Regions from separate parts of the Homo sapiens genome. Here region 1 is linked to region 2. A link means that fine-mapping ties the variant in region 2 to the expression of a gene that starts in the linked region. Tissue or cell type: breast. Region 2 holds a variant in brackets; the other region holds the start of a gene. All regions are shown on one strand. Distances are from middle to middle. Region 1 holds the start of LINC02823 (long intergenic non-protein coding RNA 2823). Region 2 overlaps LOC105369896 (a long non-coding RNA gene).

Region 1 (10,078 bases), 22 kb before region 2:
AGAGTCAGGTGGTTGGCAGGAATTAGGGGTCCTCTGGAAGGAACAGAGGTTAAAAAGAAATAGAGTGAGTTGGCAATATAATTAAAAGTGCTGTATATCAAAGTCTACAACACGGAGATGTGGGGACTGTTTATATTTTATTTTGGGCCCAATCTATATGACTTCAACATTTTTTATTGTAGTCTCTTAGGATTGGAACTGAAGTTTAATATCCACTATTCTAAATGACCAGCCATATCAATGGCAAGGTCAATAAGGAGTAAGATTAATACTTCCAAATATCTGCTTACAGAACCACTTTGAAAGAAAGTGCTTAACCAAACTGAGCCTTCTACCCTATCCCGAACCCCCTGCAGCTGCCATCATTTCAGAATAGAGAGCCACCCAACATAACAGAAAAAAAAACTTCAGCTTATCTTAAAATGAAGAACAACAATAGCAGATAGATTCTAAAGCTCTCTTAAATTTTAAAAAATTTGTTTTGTATTTGATATTCAGTGTATGATCTAAAGACAGGAATAAAACAAACAAACACACACACACACACACACACACACACACACATATTCATTCTGAAAGCTACAAACTAGACTACTGAAACAGAAGCTCCTTAGTGTGGAAACTTGGGGTTCACATTTAATAGAATCCCTCCATACAACTATTATGAACAGGATAGTTGAGAACCACTGGTTTGTACACTTTGAAGACTGTTCCTAAAAGTAATGGCCTCAAAATATAGTGCAATGAACAAAACAAAATAAAAAGAAGTAGCACAGGTAGGGGCAAATTCAGTTTATATGGCTTGAAGCTATAAATATTGAGGCTCTCTTTATGAAATAAAATAAAAAACTACAAATACAACATTAGATACAGTGTCTTTTGAGAAAATCTACTTCTGAGGCATGAACATTGAAGATAGCTTTGTTTATTACCAGCCTGGACTTGTTTCTGGGCTTTTCTGAGTTGAGAATAATGACTTCCTTCAGCTGCCAATTTCAAATGAGTTCAGTCCCTTATAAAACAGTGAAACACCCCACAGCTATAGGGGTATCATCCTCTTCACCTCTGACTACCTAGTGCATATGCAGTCCTGTGAAATGAATAGAGAAAACTGGACAAGATATTGAGATAGTAGGACAAGTATGCTTGCTGGCATCCTCTACTTTGCTCCAGCCTTTGCGGAGAAATCCAACACTCATTCACACACACGCAAGCTTTAATGAACATTTGTTGAATAAATAACTAAATGATGAATGAATGAATGAATGAGTGAATGGATGAATGAAAGCTGCTATCATAAAATACCTTGGTTGTATAGAATCTTAGAAGTGACTTGCTCTTTTGAGAACTTTAAATTTATTTACTGTATGTTAGGAAAAATATAATTAATTAAGCTGGGTGGAGTTTATGGCTAAGGACCTACTAGAGGAAGTGCCTTTTTGCAAAGCTTTGGAAGGAAGGAATGTGTGTTTATTGAAAAGTAACGATAAGGTTTCTGACTAGAAAACTGGGGCTTCAGGGGCTCTACAACTTCCCAAGATCACAGGTTCTTGGATATTGAATATTACACAAGATGTTAGAAATAAGATTCAAATCTCAAACTCTCTTATTTTATACCGGTTTTTTTTATTATATAATTTTAAGAATTAAAATATTTTTTCTATTTTGTAAAATTATGTGAAGACAAGTAACCTGTGTATTTTAATATTTTCCCCTTTGATAATATAATTTTTAATTTTATGCATTTATTTGTAAAATGTTTTACTAAGATCAAAAAGGGCTACATTTCCTGGTAACAGCCACAAGATTGTCTAAATCCTACCCTTCCTGCCCACAGTGTGAAAAATACGAGAACCCTAAATTATGCACATATACACATACATCATGCACACATGCAGTCATATATATGTATATATGTATATATGTGTATATATATACACTTGTACATATATCCAGTCATTTTCTAAAAAGCAGAACAAGGAATTTCAAAATAGATTTTAAATGTCACGTTTAGATGTTTGCTTATTCCACTATTTAAACATATGCAGGCCAGTACATAAAAATTAGCTACAAATTAGACCAATTTTTAAACTGAGCTGAAAACAACTGGGAACATTATGGGTACATAGGTTAAATAAGTAATTTATGCTTATTTTGTTTTTTTATCATGCCCTGTGTTAATTTTAATTAAACATATATCATGGCCAGGTGCAGTGGCTCACGCCTGTAATCTCAGCACTTTGGGAGGCCAAGACAGGTGCATCACCTGAGGTCAGGAGTTCGAGACCAGCCTGGCCAACATGGTGAAACCCTGTCTCTACCAAAAAAAAAACAAAACTTAGTTGGGCATGGTGGCACATGCTGTAATCCCAGCTCCTCGGGAAGCTGAGGCAGGAGAATTGCTGGAACCCAGGAGGCGGAGGTTGCAGTGAGCCGAAATTGCGCCACTGCACTCCAGCCTGGGCGACAGAGTGAGACTTCATCTCAAAAAAACAAACAACAAAATTTAATTAAACATAAATCAAAATAAACAAGGAATTAGCGGAAGTTACAGGTTAGATAAAGTGAGTTTAACAAATAATTATGAGTAGCTTTTTTCTTATTTTCTGCAGGGCACCATTATAAACTGGCAGTCCTGAAGGACCTTGTCTTAGAGTTGCTTATGGGAATAAAAATGCTTTATTGTGTGTGTTTGTATGTTTCTAAAGGAAAAAAGATCTATCCCCTTTTCTTGACTGGAAAAACCTGGGTTTAAGCCAACCTGATTTTACTCTATAAATATTTAAATCTCCTTTCTTTTCTCTAGTCATTTCTGATAATTCCTCTACTTTATACTGATAGTGTGGTAGACTCTGAAGACACATGTCGTAGGTGCATCTGGTGGTGACCGGGGTGCAATTTAAATTCACAAGAGCAACCCCAAATGGAGTGGGCGAGTGGCCAAATTACAAAGTTCTATGCATCCATAGGAATACACCAGATAATTAGGGATTCTAATTAGAAAAGTAATATATTATTATGGAATGAGCTCCAGGCTTCTGGAAGCTCATTTAAAATGTTAAGTTTCTTTGGAAGGTCTTTATGTTTTCTTTTCATTTGAAGACCCAAATTCCTTTTGCAAAAATCAGTTTTAACTTAAAACCTTTAACATGTCTGCCTTTAATTAATTTTCAGGGTTCAAGGACTGTACATTGTAGGTTTATCCTATCAATTTGATTCTCAAATCCTGGTAGATGTCCCCAAAAGAAGAAAAGAAAAAGCATAAAACTCCATACTCAAAAGTGCCCATTAGTCAGCTTTCACCATGCCAAGTTGTCAAGCGATATCACAGTTATGATCTTTAAAGCATTCAAAAAAAGCTGGAGAACTTTGTGTGAAGAGCTGGATTTTATGGCTTTTGTGTGTGCCAAAGGGATTGTCCAACAGAAAGTACCCTGGAAAGCCTAATTATTACTCCACATATAGTACGTGGCATTATAAGCTATTTTGAGGTTTTTGGAAAGGGAGAGCTATGAGTGACAACCACAGCAGGGCGTGCTGAGGAATTTAAACCCAACTCTATCATCTCCCTGTTGGCAGAACATAAAACACATAATGCTGTTTTAGTAATCAATCTTTCATGTATTTATTTTAAGGAAAAATAATTTCATTAAAACTTACAGAGTGGGAAAAGGAGTGATATAAAAGTCAACACAGTACATTTATATTCAATGAGAATTATTTTTTAAAACATTATGGCTGCTATTTACAAGGGTGGCGTTCGTTTTATACTTAAAATCACAGCAGCTTTTGTAACACTTTTTTTAGGAAATAATGAAAAATCTGATTTGGATTACGACTCAAGTTGAATATTTTTAAGAACTCTTTAATTCTTATACATGTCAGTTGTATAAACAAAATAATGTTGGGAGAATGAACTCAGAAACTTAGAAGCTATCAGTCATTTTTCAGATTTGCCTCTATGCTTTGTTATTCTATTATGTTTGAAAGGGTCTTCAGACAGAGATGAGAATTTAAAGACAATAAATGAAGAGCATTGTTTTATGATTGTGACTTCAATATGCAAGTCTAGTGAGAACTATCTCTAAGTCAGATTTGTGGATATGTCAGTACTGTTTAAAATGAAATTCAGCTGTCTCCCCTCTCCATCCTGGAAGCATTTTATACGTCAGCATTGTCTACTGTTTAGTTGCAGAATATTTTGCTCAGTGGTCATTATAACTTTGGAGGGCACGCCTTAATGCCTAACATGTGTAAAAGGTATTTACCTATAGTAACCAGTAATTTTACTTACATTTTCTCCCAAGCATTGTGGAATCTCAAAAGCCTTCGACTCTACGCTTCAAGTCCAAAAAAACTAAGCAGATTTGTGATACCACTTCTTTTTCATGGTTCTAGATAAAACAAGTAAGAATTTTCTTTCTAGTAAAATAAATGGATTTGCTTCTCTGGTTTTCTACTCTAAGTACTAAGAAAAAGGGAGGTACAATACTTAAAGTTAAGGATTATTGTAACTAGGATAGAATAAATAGAAACAATTAATTTTCCCCGTAGATCTATATCCATGACCAAGGATAAATGAAAACTGTGACATTAGGATTTGAGACAGTGTTTTGCTATTTTGTGGTTATTTCAGACTTACTGTTTTAAAGCAAAATCAACTTATTACCATTTTGAAAATGAGAAAAACCAAATCCAAGTTTTGATTCAGACTTTACTAATAGTTCTATGTCACATGATTAATAAACCTCTGGGGGATATAACTTTTAAATATTATAATAAAAATAAATGATATTTGGCTTTTTGTTTTTCCCTTTGAGGGTGAAATAGAGCTAATGGTCTTTGAATCTGACCTCTTTGCTGCTATTCCCATTTTTTCCAAAAGGTGGCGCATGTGTAATCTTTTTCTTTATCAGGGTGCAAAGAACCTGGGGAGCCAGAGGGACCTGAGTGAATTTTCAGAATTGTTTTTCTTCAACAAACTCAAGGTGGCCACATCAGAAATCTGCATTTCTGCAATGGCAGTTTCTTTATGCTCAAAGAACCCTTCAAATAAGAATTAATCTGATTTTGTGAAAGAAAAACATGCTTCCTATGCTTCCCATCTTAGTTTGGTTTAAACTTTGGAGTTCTTTTTGCCAAGTTTATTTTATAATGTTTTTCTTCCTTTCTGATCTTAGACTAAAGTTCTATTTTTTTAAAGATAACCTTGACTCATGTGGAGTTGTCCTTCTTAATTAGAATTCATAAGCAACACACAAGTATGTCTGGACTCTGTCTAAACAAAGCTCTTTGACAGCACAAATGCAGAAGGATAAATCTATCAGACAGGAGAAATCTTTTGAACTATGGGCAGATAAGAGGGAGTCAGAAGTACAGAGGGAAAGGAAAACATGTTGGAGAGATTCTGATGATGAGACAGGAATTCACAGATGAGACCTAAAATCAAACACACAGTTTTTCCCAGCAATTCACTTAAATGTGCTTCCAAACTCTGTAGCTGAAAGAAAAATTTAAATATGATCTAACGAAGTCCAACCACTTCACTTTACAGATGAGGAAACCAAGTCCCAAAAGATGAAGCCATGTATTTAGTGAAACACAACTGAATTCTGTTCTGTTTCTGGTGAAATAATACAAGAATCTGTCAAAGAGGTGTGTTAAGTCACAAGTTGCAGAAAGCAAGACTTAATAGTTTTGAAAATTGTAGTCTTTTAAATCATGATTCTTTTTTATTTAGGCTTGTATTATTTTGGTCACTATGCTGTTTTAGACACTCTCCTCTGCTCCACAGATGAATATGGTCATTCATTAGCCATTAAGTTGTAGATCTGTGCTGTCCAATGCAGTAGCCATTGGCCACTTGAGTATTTCATTGAATTTTAAACTAATTTAAATGAAATGAAATGAAAAATTTAGTTCATCCATTGCACTAGCCGTATTTCAAGTGCTTAGCAGTTGCATGTAGCTAGTGGCTGCTATTTAAACAGGGCACATATACAGGCATAATTGTACTTCACTTTATTGTGCTTTGCAGATATCGCATGTTTCACAAATTGAAAGTTTGTGGCAACTCTGCATGGAGCAAGTCTATTGGTGCCATTTTCCAACAACATGTGCTCACTTCGTGTCTCTGTGTCCCATTTTGGTGATTCTCACAATATTTCAGACTTGTTATTTCTGTTATGGTGAACTGTGATCAGTGATCTTTGATGTTACTGTTGTAATTATTTTGGAGTGCCATGAACCACACTCATATAAAACAGTGAACTTAATAGTAAATATTGTGTGTGTTACGATAGCTCCACCAACTGACCCTTCCTTCATCTTTCTTCCTCTCCTTAATTTATCTCCCTCTCCTTGGGCCCCCCATTTTCTGAGACACAACAATATTGAAATTAGGCCAACTAATAACTCTAAAATGGCCTCTAAAATGATCAAGTGAAAGGAAGAGTCACATGTCTCTCACTTTTAATCAAGAGCTAGAAATGATTAAGCTTAGTGAGGAGGGCATGTTGAAAGCCAAGACAGGCTGAAAGCTAGGCCTCTTGTGCCGAATAGTTAGCCCAATTGTGAATGCAAAAGAAAAGTTCTTAAAGAAGATTAAAAGTGCTACTCCAGGTCAGGTGTGGTGGCTCACCCCTGTAATTCTAGCACTTTGGGAGGCCGAGGTGGGTGGATTGCTGAGCTCAGAAGTTCAAGACCAGCCTGGGCAAAATGCTGAAACCCCACCTCTACTAAAATACAAAAAAATTAGCTGGGTGTGGCAGCGTGCACCTGCAATCCTAGTTACTTGGGAGACTGAAGCAGGAGAATTGCTTGAACCTGAGAGGCGGATGTTGCAGTGAGTCGAGATTGCGCCATTGCACTCCAGCCTTGGGGACAGAGTGAGACTCTGTCTCAAAAAGAAACAATCCATCAATCAATAAAAGTGCTACACACACATGTATACATATGTAACTAACCTGCACATTGTGCACATGTACCCTAAAACTTAAAGTATAATAATAATAAAATAAAAAAAAGAAAAAGAAGCTAGAAGAAAAAAAAAAGGTGCTACTCCAGTGAACACAGAAATACGAGAAAGTGAAACAGCCTTATTGCTAGTATGGGAAAGATTTTAGTGGTCTGGATAGAAGATTAAACCAGCCACATCATTCCCTTAGACAAAAGCCTAATCTAGAGCAAGGCCCAAACTCTCTTCAATTCTATGAAGGCTGAGAGAGGTAAGGAAGTTGCAGAAGAAAAGTTTGAGGCTAGCAGAGGTTGGTTCATGAGGCTTAAGGAAAGCAACCATCTCCATAACATAAAAGTACAAAGTGAAGCCACGGTGCCAAAGCAAGTTATCCAGAAGATCAAGCTAAAATAATCCATGAAGGTGACTACGTTAAACAACAGATTCTCAATGAAGATGAATGTCTTCTATTGGAAGAAATGCTGTATAGGACTTGCATACCAAGAGAGGAGAAGTCAATGCCTGGTTCAAATCTACGAGGGACAGGCTTACTCTCTTGTTAGGGGTTAGTGCATCTTGTGATTTTAATTTGAAGCCAATGCTAATTTGCCATTCCAAAAATCTTTGGGCCCTTAAGAATTATGTTAAATTGGCTCTGCCTGTGTTCTGTAAATGCAACAACACAGCCTGGATGGCAGTACACCTGTTTACAGCATGGTTTACTGAATATTTAATCCCACTTTTGAGATCTATTGCTCAGTAAAAAAGATTCATTTAAAAATATTACCGTTCATTGACAATGCACCTAGTTACTCAAGAGCTCTGTTGAAGATGTACAAGGAGATTGATGTTGTTTTTATTCCTGCTAACACAACATTCATTCTGCAGCTTATGGATCAAGGAGTAATTTTGATTTTCAAGTCTTGTCATTTAAGAAACACATTTTGTAAGGCCATCAATGCCATTAACTGATTCCTCTGATGGATCTGGGAAAAATAAATTGAAAACCTTCTGGAAAGGACTTATCATTCTAGATACCATCCATAACATTCATAATTCAAAATGTCAAGATTAACAGGAGTTTATTCATCCATCCGTCATAGATGACTTTGAGAAGTGCAAGATTTCACTGGAGGAAGTTAACTAGAGATTAGGATTAGAAGTAGAGCCTGAAGATGTGACTGAATTGCTGCAATCTCATAATAAAACTAACAAATGAGAAGTTACTTTTTGTAGATGTTCAAAGAAAGTGGTTTCTTGAGATGGAATCTACTCCTGGTGAGGTTGCTATGAATGTTGTTGAACAGAGGACTTAGAATATTGCATAAACTTAATTGATAAAGCAGCAGCAGGGTTTGAGAATATTGACTCCAGTTTTGAAATAGTTCCACTGTGGGTAAAATGCTGCCAAACTGCATCACATGCTAGATAAATCTTTTGGGACACGAAGAGTCAATCAATGGGGCAAACTTCATTGCTGTCTCATTTTAAGAAATTTCCACAGGCATGTCAACCTTCAGCAACCCCACCCTGATTGATTAGCAGCCATCGACACTGACACAAGATCCTCCACTGGCAAATAGATTATGATTCGCTGAAGGCTCAGATGATTATCATTTTTAAGCAATACAGTATTTTAAAATTAATATATGTAGATTTTTTAGACATAGTGCAACTTCACACTTAATAGACTGTAATATAGTTTGCAAATAACTTGTATATGCACTGGAAAACTGAAAAAATTGTGCATCTCACTTTCCTGTAATATGTGCTTTAAAATGAAAATTACAATATCTCCAAGATATGCTTGTAGAACTTCCCATCATTGCTGAAAGCTCTCTTGGACAGCAGTGTTATAGATTGATCATTAATTGTAGAGAGTATAAAGAGAGTATAACACAAGGTCAGTTACATAGTGTGATAGGCTAATCCAGTGTGTAATAGCTGAAAATATTTGTTTCATAATTTGTTTGGGTTCATAAGAAAATTTACAACCAGCCATGGAAAATTATCAGGTTAATGTCTTCTTATGCCTTCTCCCACTCTGTTTCTTCTCTACTTTGGACTTCTCTAATACTTTTCACTTTTTAGAGTTCACAACAAATCTTTTTGAGTACTCTATTTATTTCCTCTTGTGTGTGTTATACAATTATACAGTTATACAAATTTTGCAGTGTCTGTTAAATGTGTACTGTACAACAGGCACTGTACCAGGCAACTAAAAAGGAAGACACAGAAGATGCTATATAATAATAAACCAGGCAGGAGCAAACACATCTCCAGAGTTCAACCGAGATAGGAATGATCTCCTCAGACCATTTGAAGTAGCAAAAGCAAGTATTATTAGCTTAACTGTGTATATGATGAGATGGAAGTTTATTCTGAGGGGTGAAGTGACTTGCCCAAAATAATACAGAAGATAGCTGGGTACAGTGGCTCATGCCTGTAATCCCAGCACTTTGGGAGGTGGGAGGATCACCTTAGGTCAGGAGTTCGAGACCAGCCTGGCCAACATGGCGAAACCCTACTAAAAATATAAAGATTACCCAGGCATGGTGGTGGGCGCCTGTAAGCCCAGCTACTCAGGAGGCTGAGGCATGAGAATTGCTTGAACCTGGGAGGGGGAGATTGCAGTGAGCCGTGATTGCGCCACTGCACTCCAGCCTGGGGGATAGGGTGAGACTCTGTCTCCCGAAAACAAAACAAACAACAACAATAAAAATACAGAAGATAAAAAACATATCTTCAAACTGGAATACATGTTTTTAACTTCAAGTCCAATATGTCCAATGCACTTTCTAATCTCTCTATTACCAACCCCATGGTAGAGATTGGTTTATGCCAACTTTCTAATTTTTTCCAACATCTTCCAAGGAACTATCGAATAAGTCGTGCCTTGTATATATATCGACATTCTCTTTTTTGTAAGTTCAATTTTTAGAATTTTCTTGAATAAAGACAGAATTATATTTGTGTTTTTTACCCAGACTTCTCTTCGGAGCTCTAAACTAAGTGGTAAAACGCTCCTGGGTTGAACTGATCTGTGCTTCCTGATGTTCCATCAATACATTGAAAATACTTTGAAATCTTAGGGGTTGTCAGAACTTAAACACAAATGAATGC
Region 2 (10,078 bases):
TAAACATGATTTGGTCTTTATGACTTGGAAACAAATATGAACGGGTCTTACCAACATATCTGGAAGAAATGAAATAGAAAATACTCTTAAGCATTAGTTTCATAACTCAAATTTAGTTATCAGATTGCTCAATAAATTATCTATGAGGACCTGGAGGAAAAGGAGTAAAGAGAAAAATGTTAGTATTCTGTTGGCAATGATGAAAAAAAAAAAAAAGGTCTTAAAGAAATGATGAAGCCAAACTGGGTGTGCCATAGAGAAGTGGACACTTTTAATCTTTCCCCAGATGAATGGAGTTCTTATTTCTACATCTGCATCCTCTTTGTCCTTAGCTCTGTTCTCTATATGATACTTTCCAACCGGTTGTTCATTGGTCTTCACTGTTTACCCTGCCACTTTAATTTACTATGTTCATTACTTATGTCGCTACTTCCAACTTTAAAAAATAATTTATTCTTGTAATTCAATCCTTCTCTTTAGTCTTTCATAGTTAGTTAGAATTTGTCAGTACTTGAATGGATGTCATCTTTTTTCTTCTTCATAGTGAATCATAAAAAAAATTATCAACATTGTGACAATTTATAAAGACGCCCTTTAAGTGCTATTTCTCTTTCTCTTTTGACACTTTTCTTCTCTTTCTACATTTCTCCTTTGACTCAGGATCTGTTCCTCCTCACCTTCTACATTGATTTCTCCAGTCACTTTAGTTCAAAACACAACAGGCATCCACTTATTTTCTATAGCCTTTATTTTAATTACTTCTCTAGATAACTCCCCCCATTTCTTCTTTCTTTCCCACTGAAATCTGATGAACTTTCCTATTCTGTCTGCTCTACTGAGCAAGGGTTCCCATTTCCAAAGAGATAACTTGCAACCTCCATAATGACTGTTTTCCTTCTACTTTTTGTCTTGCCACCACCAGAAAATGTCTTAATTTTACTTCTCCCTTGAGAAAGCTTTTCATCCTGTCTCCCTTCCTTTTAATAGTTTTTGGGTCTTCTTTGCATCGTACAGATGTTACCATTCAGTTTTTAAAGTTCCCCTTTCATTCTGAGCCCTTGAAACTGATCCAGCTGCATCTGTCTTTACTCATTTTGATTTATTATTGAGAAGTTTGCTCACCTTCTTTATTCTTTGTTCTTCTCCAAACAAATTTTGTGCATTACACTCTCTGCCTTGGTGTTTTCATTTAGAAAGTTGCCCCTGTGTTCTACATACCCTGGACTTTTTTTCAATTACAAATTATCTGAAGCTTTTCCCAATCTGTACTTGGCTATCTCTTACCAGATTTTTTTTTTTTTGTGGGGAACTCCCTTGTCATGTTACTACCTCAAATTAATATACCTCTGCTATGGTATACATATTGTGGTCCCCTAAAATGCATATGTTGCAATCCTAACCCTCAAGGTGATGTGATTAGAAATTGAGGCCTTTGGGAGGTGATTAGGTCATAGGTACAGAGGCCTCATGAATGGGATTAGTGTCTTACAAAAGAGGTGCCAGAGAGACCTCCCCTTACCCCTCCCTTCCATCATTTGAAGAAACAGCTAGAAGCCACCATCTGTGAACCAGAAAGTGGGCCCTAGTCACATGCTGAATCTGCTGGCACCTCAGTCTTGGAATTCATAGCCCCCAAATCTATGAGAAATACATTTCTATTATTTATAAACTGCTTAGTTTATGGCCTTTATAAAAAGTTGCCCTTGTGTTCTATATACAATAGCAAGCCGAATGGAATAGGACACCTCCTATCCAAATTTCAAACCAGTCCCTTGTTGTAATGTCTAGTATGTCACAGTGACTCTGGACTATGTCATAGGGCTGTTTATTTTCATCATCCCTCTAATACTGTGGAAACAAGTAGCCTTCTACATTGCTATTCAAAGTGTGATTCCTTTATTTGCGTTATTAACATTGCTCTAGTGCTTTTAAAAATGCACACAGTCAAGTTGAACTGCAGACTTTCTGAATTATAATCTGCATTTTAATACGATCTCTAGGTAATATTTTTACACAGTAAAGTGTAAGAGGCACTGGCAAACTACATATATGCAAACTGGAGGATACATGAAAATCACCTCAGTGAGTTCAAGTGTTTTGTGATCTGTGCCCAAATTGTGTTGCCTCAAAGTCTTTCAATTTCTCTTGGAATTCATGTATAGCTGTTTCTTTTGAAATACCTATACATGAAGTATTGTGGTTTCTATGTTTCTTCTCCTCATTCAAATTTAGCAAATACTCTCCTTCCTAGTATGCATTGTGATCATGTAGCTGAATCTCTTCCCATGCCTATGGACAAAGTAAGGCAATTATTTTATTTCCCATTTTGCTGACAGAAAAACTGAAAAGAGAAAATTATGATGTGATTTTCTTAGAGTCACCTAGATAATCACAAGTACAATAAAAACACATATGCAAGGTCCTTAACCCTTGGTTTAAAATGTGTTTCATTACTATGCTGTTGTTTGTTAAATGAATGTATAATCCTTTACCAATTTTTTCATTCATGTTAATTTTTAAATATTAGGACACTTGAATTCTGCATTATTGTCAAAAACTAATTGGAAATATAGTCACATCAGTAGCATTTTATCAAGTATAATTTGAGAGAAAGTAATAAAAAATTGAAGATTTATAAATCATATGCAAGAAAGAGTACCATATTTCTTTATAAATGCATAGAGCTTGGTGAAAAACATTCACAAGAGAAAATACATAAGTCCAGATATCTTTTGGAGAATATTACTAGAATAATTCCGTGATACATGACATCATCTTTCAACCTTTATCATCTCTTAATCCAGTTTGTCTTGACACTCTGTCCCACAACCCAAACATTAACTTGTTCACTTTCTCTTCAAATCAGTGAAAGTACAATAATTTTCCCCCCTTCCTCCATATGTCTTAAATATTTCTAAAATTGAAATTGGAGGGGTGGGTTTGGGGAAAAAATGGAAGCCCATTGAGGGACATTAAAAACTTTATGAAGGTTCACAAGAATTAAGAACTACTTATTTTCATAGGGGAGTGATAGTCTAATTTGAGAGTCCTAACAACTAGTCTCTTAGTAACTAGATAAATTTCTTTTTATTTTTTAAAAACTTTTATTTTAAGTTCAGAGTACATGTGTAGGTTTGTTATGTACGTAAAGTTGTGTCATGGAGGTTTGTTATACAGATTATTCCATCACCCAGGCATTAAGCCTAGTACCCATTAGTTATTTTTCCTGATCCTTTCTCTCCCCCTACCTCCCTGGGGTCTGGTAGACCCCAGTGTGTGTTGTTCCCTCCCTGTGTCCATGCATTCTCATTATTTAGCTCCCATATATAAGTGAGAACATGTGGTATTAGGTTTTCTATTCCTGTGTTAGTTTGCTAAGGATAATTGGCCTCCAGCTCCATCCATGTCCCTGCAAAGGACATGGCCTCATTCTTTTTCATGGCTGCATAGTGTTCCATGGTGTATATGTACTACATTTTGTTAATCCAGTCTATCAGTGATGGGTATTTAGGTTGATTCCATGTCTTGGTTCTCTTGAATAGTGCATCAATGAATATGTGCATGCATGTGTCTTTATAATAGAATTATTGATATTCTTTTGGGTACATAAATCCCAGTAATGGGATTGCTGGGTTAAATGGTATTTCTGTCTTTAGATCTTTAAGGAATTGCCACCCCGTGATCCACAATGGCTGAACTAATTTACACTCCCACTAACAGTGTATAAGTGTTCTTTTTTTCTCCACAATCTTGTCAGCATCTGTTATTTTTTGACTTTCTAAGTTTTATAACATAGTGATTTGCAAAATATTAGCTAGTAATTGTGGCATGTAAATGGAAGATGACATCTACAGCTGAAAGCAAACTGTGCTACTAATTCATAATTTAAAATATTGTTAAAATATTTCACTAGACTCTTCCATTTGTGTATTGCTCTTAAAAACTTTGTATCTTATGATGAACAATGTGGAAATTAATGTTACGGGCAAAATAAAAATCAAGGTGGCAGCATGTGGAATAAATATAGAATTTGGGGCATATGTAGAACTCAATTTGGCCTTTGTATCTGCTACTTATTGTGTGAACTTAAATAAGTAATAGAGTGACCTACTCTGCTGGATTTCCTTGGGATTTTTTTGGTTTTAAAAGTGAAAGTCCTACATCTATGAAACTCTTTTTATTTCAGGCAAACCAGGAGGGTTGTCCACCCTAATAAGTGGCTTAGACTTTCTAAGCATCAGGTCGTTCACCTGGAATTTATACATATGAGATAAGATTCAAATATATCTCTCCTTCTCTCTCT[A/C]TATATAGATATATACTCTACTCTACTACCTATAAATGTTAATTATCTAGAAGATACACCATGAATGTAATAGATAAATCACAGCTATAGGAGGGGATGATATAACAAACTGGGCAGCAGAATTTGCACTTTGAACACAAATTCACTAATACAAGTGGCTTCTCTAAAAACTCCTGGAGTAAAATGAAAATTTAAGTGGAAAACAAAATGCAATTTGATTTAGTAACAGTAGAAGGAGTCAAGAATTTGAGATATTTTGCAGTCTGAAAAACAGATTTTCAGTTTTTAAGAGTAGACAGTATTGGCAATACTATTTAGCCCACAATTGAAAGGAGGGAAATTGAATGTCATTTTTCACTGAATTTCCACAGAATTTCATGGTATATCTTCTTTAAACAAAGTAAAAAGGCATCTCCATGATTTATTTTCTGATCTTACTTAATCAAGTTTTAACAAGAGGTTTTCAGGAATGTGAAGACTCCTTATTTCTGTGGAAGAACTCCATTTATTCAGTTGTTCTTGCAGTCCTAGAATAAGGGCACACTGAACTCCTCCATGCCAGAAAATGAACCTGACATTGTGGGTGTATGATTATCATCCCTATCCTGGAGGAATTCATAACTTGAGGGGGAAGTCAGGTATGTAGTGAGATGGGTAAAATGCAATCTGATACATGCTAAATAGAATTCTGAACAGTACTGTGGAGACAAAAATGAAGAACAGCTATTGCCTAAAGGACTTTTCAGAGCTTGTGACACTTGAGTGGCGTCTTAAAGGATGAGTTAGGATTCACCAAACAGAACAGAATTAGAAAGGCTTTGCCACAAAAGAAACAGCATATTCAAATGCAAAAGAGTATGAGGAAGGCATCTCTTTTTGGGGGAGAGCAATGCTGGCAGAATGTTGGTTAGAAGATCAGAATGATAGAGAGAAATGCATTTGGAGAGACTTTCCTAACATTATTATTTTATAACACTAAGATCTTTAGCCTTTTTCTTGTAGTTGTTAAGGAAACATCAAAATTATTTAAAGAGAAAAGTGAGAAGCTTGGATTCTTGTATTTGAAAAAATAACTTTGGCAGAATGTGTTGGAAGGGTTAGTGTTATGAGGAAAACTACAGATAAAAAGTCTGGAGAGAAGTCTACTGTATTATTCAGAAGAAACATAAAAATAGCCAAAGCAAGCTAGTGATCATTGAGAAAAGGAAGAAAGTAGGGTTCAGATTGAGCGTTTTTCTCTAGGACTCTTCAAATCATTGACTGCAGAGGAATGGTAGGAGGCAGATTCATTTGGGCAACAGGTTGGATTGAGCATTTTAGGTGGAATTTCACTAGCTTGACCAATCCTTGTTGCATCAGGAGAGTCATAGAAGGAATCTGTGCTTGAACCTTGGGATACTTTGGGACCATTGCAACTTCAAAAGCCTGTAATTTAAAATAATATTATTTTATGCCTTTCTTTGTAATTTTGATCATTGTTGGTTTACAGTTGGTTTTGTCTCAAATAAGAACAGAAACCCCTGCTCTTTTTTGCTTTCCATTTGTCTGATAGATCTTTCTCTATCCCTTTACTTTAAGCCTATGGATGTCCTTGCATGTAAGATGGTTCTCTTGAAGACAGCATACAGTGGGGCCTTGCTTCTTTATCCAACTTGCCACTCTGTGCCTTTTAAGTGGGATGTTTAACCTATTTACATTAAAGGTTAACATGAGTATGTGTGAATTTGATCCTTTTATTGTGTTGTTAGCTGGTTATTATGTAGACTTGATTGTATATTTTCTTTCTAGTTTCAATAGTCTATGTATTTAAGTGTGTTTTTGTGGTGGCAGGTACCAGTCTTTCATTTCTGTGTTTAGTATGGAAATGACCTCTTGTAAGGCAGGTCTAGTGGTATTGAATTCCCTTAGTGTTTCCTTGTCTGAAAAAGATTTTATTTCTCCTTAGCTTATGAAGCTTAGTTTAGCCAGATATAAAATTTTCAGTTGGAATTTTTTTCTTTAAGGATGCTGAACATAGGCCCCCAATCTCTTCTGACTTTTAGAGTTTCTATTGAAAGGTCCACTGTTAGCCTGCTGGAGTTCCCTTTGTAGGTGAACTTCTCCTTCTGCTTACTTGTCTTTAATATTTTTTCTTTCACATTGGTCTTGGAGACTCTGATGACTACCTGTCTTGGGGATGGTTCAACTCAAAAAGAAGACTGAACTATTCTAAATATATATGCACCCAACACTGAGCACCCAGATTCATAAAACACATTCTTACATACCTACAAAGAGACTTATATAACCACACAATAATTATGGGAGACTTTAATACCCAACTGACAGTATTGGACAGATCATTGAGGCAGAATACTAACAAAGATATATGGAACCTAAACACAACAGTTGACCAAATGGAGCTAACAGACATGTACAGAACATTTGACTCAACAAAAACAGAATATACATTCTTCTCAATTGCACATGGCACATATTCTAAAATTGACTGCACACTCAGCAAGAAAGCAATTCTTAACAAATTTAAAAAAGAAAACCCTGAAATCATATGAACCATCCTCTTGGAACACAGTGCAATAAAAAGAGAAGTTAATACCAAATATCTCTCTCAAAACCATACAATTAAATGAAAATTACACAATCTGCTCCTGAATGACTTTTGGGTAAACCATGACATTAAGGCAGAAATCAATAAATTAGTCGAAACTAATGAAAGCAAAGATACAACATACCAGAACAATAAAGCAGTGTTAAAAGTTTTTATTTTATTTTATTTTATTTTATTTTAAAGTTCTGGGGTACTTGTGGAGGATGTGCAGGTTTGTTACATAGATAAATGTGTGCCATGGTGGGTTGCTGCACCTATCAACCCATCACCCAGCAATTAAGCCCAGCATGCATTAGCTATTTTTCTTAATGCTCTCCTTCCCCAACCACACGTGACAGGCCCCAGTGTGTGTTGTTCCCCTCCCCGTGTCCATATGTTCTCATTGTTCAGTTCCCACTTATAAGTGAGAACATGTGTTTAGTTTTCTGTTCTTGCATTAGTTTTCTGAGAATAATGGCTTCTTGCTCCATCTATGTCCCTGCAAAGGACATGATCTCATTTCTTTTTATGGCTACATAGTATTCCATGGCATATATGTACCATATTTTGTTTATCCAATCTATCGTTGATGGGCTTTTGGGTCGATTTCATATCTTTGCTATTTTGAATAGTGTTGAATTTAACATATCCGTGCATGTATCTTTATAATAGAATGAATATATTCCTTTGGGTATATATCCAGAAATGGGATTGCTAGGTCAAATGGTATTTCTGGTTCTAGATCTTTGAGGATTGCCACACTGTCTTCCACAATGGTTGAGCCAATTTACATTCCCACCAATAATGTAAAAGTGTTCCTATTTCTCCACCACCTCTCCAGCATCTGTTGTTTCTTGTTTTTTTATTTGCCATTCTGACTGGCGTGAGAGTATCTCATTGTGGTTTTGATTTCTGTTTCTCTAATGATCAGTTATGTTGGTTTTTTTTCATATGTTTGCTGACCACATGAATGTCTTCTTCTGAGAAGTATCTGTTTATGCCCTTTGCCCACTTTTTAATGGAGTTTTTTTTCTTGTAATTTGTTTAAATTCTTCGTAGATTCTGAATATTAGATCTTTGTCAGATAGGTAGATTGCAAAAATTTTCTCCTACTCTGTAGGTTGTCTGTTCACTCTGACGATAGTTTCTTTTGCTGTGCAGAAGCTCTTTAATTTAATTAGATACCATTTGTCAATTTTTGCTTTAGTTGCAATTGCTTTTGGCATATTCGTCATGAAATTTTTGCCTGTGCCTATGTCCAGAGTGGTATTACCTAGATTTTCTTTTAGGGTTTTTATAGTTTTGGGTTTTACATTTAAGTCTTTAATCTATCTTGAGTTAATTTTTGTATAAGTGTAAGGAAGGGGGCCAGTTTCAATTTACCGCATATGGCTAGCCAATCCTCCCAGAACCATTTATTAAACAGAGATTCCTTTCCCCATTGCTTGTTTTCTTCAGGTTTGTTGAAGATCAGATGGTTGCAGATAAGCAGTATTATTTCTGAGTTTTCTATTCTGTTCCATTGGTTTATGTGTCTGTTTTTGTACCAGTACTATGCTGTTTGGTTACTGTAGTCTTCTAGTATATTTTGAAGTAAGGTAGTGTGATGCTTCCAGCTTTGTTCTTTTTGGTTAGGATTGTCTTGATTATATGAACTCCTTTGTAGTTCCATATGAATTGTAAAATAGTTTTTTTTTCTAATTCTGTGAAGAATGTCAATTGTAATTTAATGGGAATAGCACTGAATCTATAAATTACTTCGGGTGGTATGGTCATTTCATGATATCTATTCTTCCTATCCATGACTATGGAATATTATTTTCATTTCTTTGTGTTCTCTCTGATTTCCTTGACAGTGGTTTGTAGTTCTCCTTGAAGTGGTCCTTCACTTTCCTTGTTAGATGTATTCATAGCTAATTTATTCTCTTTGTAGCAATTGTGAATGGGAGTTGATTCATGATTTGACTCTCTGCTTCTCTATTGTTTGTGTATAGCAATGCTTCTGATTTTTGCACATTGATTTTGTATCCTGACACTTCGCTGAAGTTGCTTATTAGCTTAAGAATCTTTTAAGCTGAGATGATGGAGTTTTCTAGATATAGGATCATGTCATCTGCAAAAAATGATAATTTGAATTTGTCTTTTCCTACTTGAATATGCTTTATTTCTTTATCTTGCCTGATTGCCCTAGCTGGAACTTTGAAAACTATGTTGAACAGGAGTGGTGAGAGAGGGCATCCTTGTCTTGTGCCAGATTTCAAGGGGAATGCTTCCAGCTTTTGCTCATTCAGAATGATATTGACTGTGGGTTTGTCATAAATGTCTCTTATTATTTTGAGGTATGCTTCTTCAGTTCCTAGTTTTTGAGAGTTTTTAACATGAAATGAAGTTAAATTTTATTGAAGGTCTTTTCTGCATCTATTGAGATAATCATTTGTTTTTTTTCTTTAGTTCTGTTTATGTGATGTATTATGTTTATTTATTTGTGTATGTGAACCAGCCTGGCATCTCAGGGATGAAGCCAATTTGATTGTCCTGGATTAGCTGGATTCAGTTTGTCAGTATTTTATTGAGGATTTTTGGATTAATGTTAATCAGGAATATTGGCCTGAAGTTTTTTGTTGTTGTTTCTCTGCGAGGTTTTGGTATCAGAATGATGCTGGCCTCATAAAATGAGTAGGGAAGAGTCCCTTCTTTTTAATTATTTGGAATAGTTGTACTTCTGATAGAATAGAGCTGTAAATCTATCTGGTCCAGGGCTGTTTTTGGTTGTCAGTCTACTTATTACTGTCTCAATTTCAGAACTTGTTATTGGTCTATTCAGGGATTCAATTCCTTCCTGGTTCAGTCTTGGGAGGCTGTATGTGTCCAGAAATTTATTCATTTCTTCTGGATTTTCTAGTTTATTTGCATAGAGATGTTTATAGTACTCTAATGGTTGTTTGTATTTCTTTGTGTTCAGTGGTGATATCCCTTTTTTTATGTTTATTATGTTTATTTTATTCTTCTCTCTTTTCTTCTTTATTAGTCTAGCTAGAGGTCTGTTTTATTAATGTTTTCAAAAAACACCTCTTGGGTTTGTTGATTTTTTTGAAGGGTTTTTTATGTCTCTGTCTCCTTTAGTTCTGCTCTGAGCTTAGTTATTTCTTGTCTTCTGCTAGCTTTGGGGTTCATTTACTCTTGATTCT

The links.
Region 1: LINC02823 starts here. The variant in region 2 is fine-mapped to the expression of LINC02823 in breast (GTEx, PIP above 0.99).

Annotation. Positions count from the first base shown.
Region 1 is chr12:91,321,437-91,331,514 of GRCh38, reverse strand. It overlaps LINC02823 (long intergenic non-protein coding RNA 2823), which reads right to left and starts at 4,589. Exons shown (of 4, transcript NR_183611.1): 1 at 4,295-4,589. All of the region lies in intron 8 of LOC105369896 (a long non-coding RNA gene), which reads left to right.
Region 2 is chr12:91,299,448-91,309,525 of GRCh38, reverse strand. All of the region lies in intron 8 of LOC105369896 (a long non-coding RNA gene), which reads left to right. LOC107984544 (a long non-coding RNA gene) reads right to left here and starts at 139. Exons shown (of 3, transcript XR_001749252.2): 1 at 52-139. The variant A/C (reference allele first, on the strand shown) is at 4,304.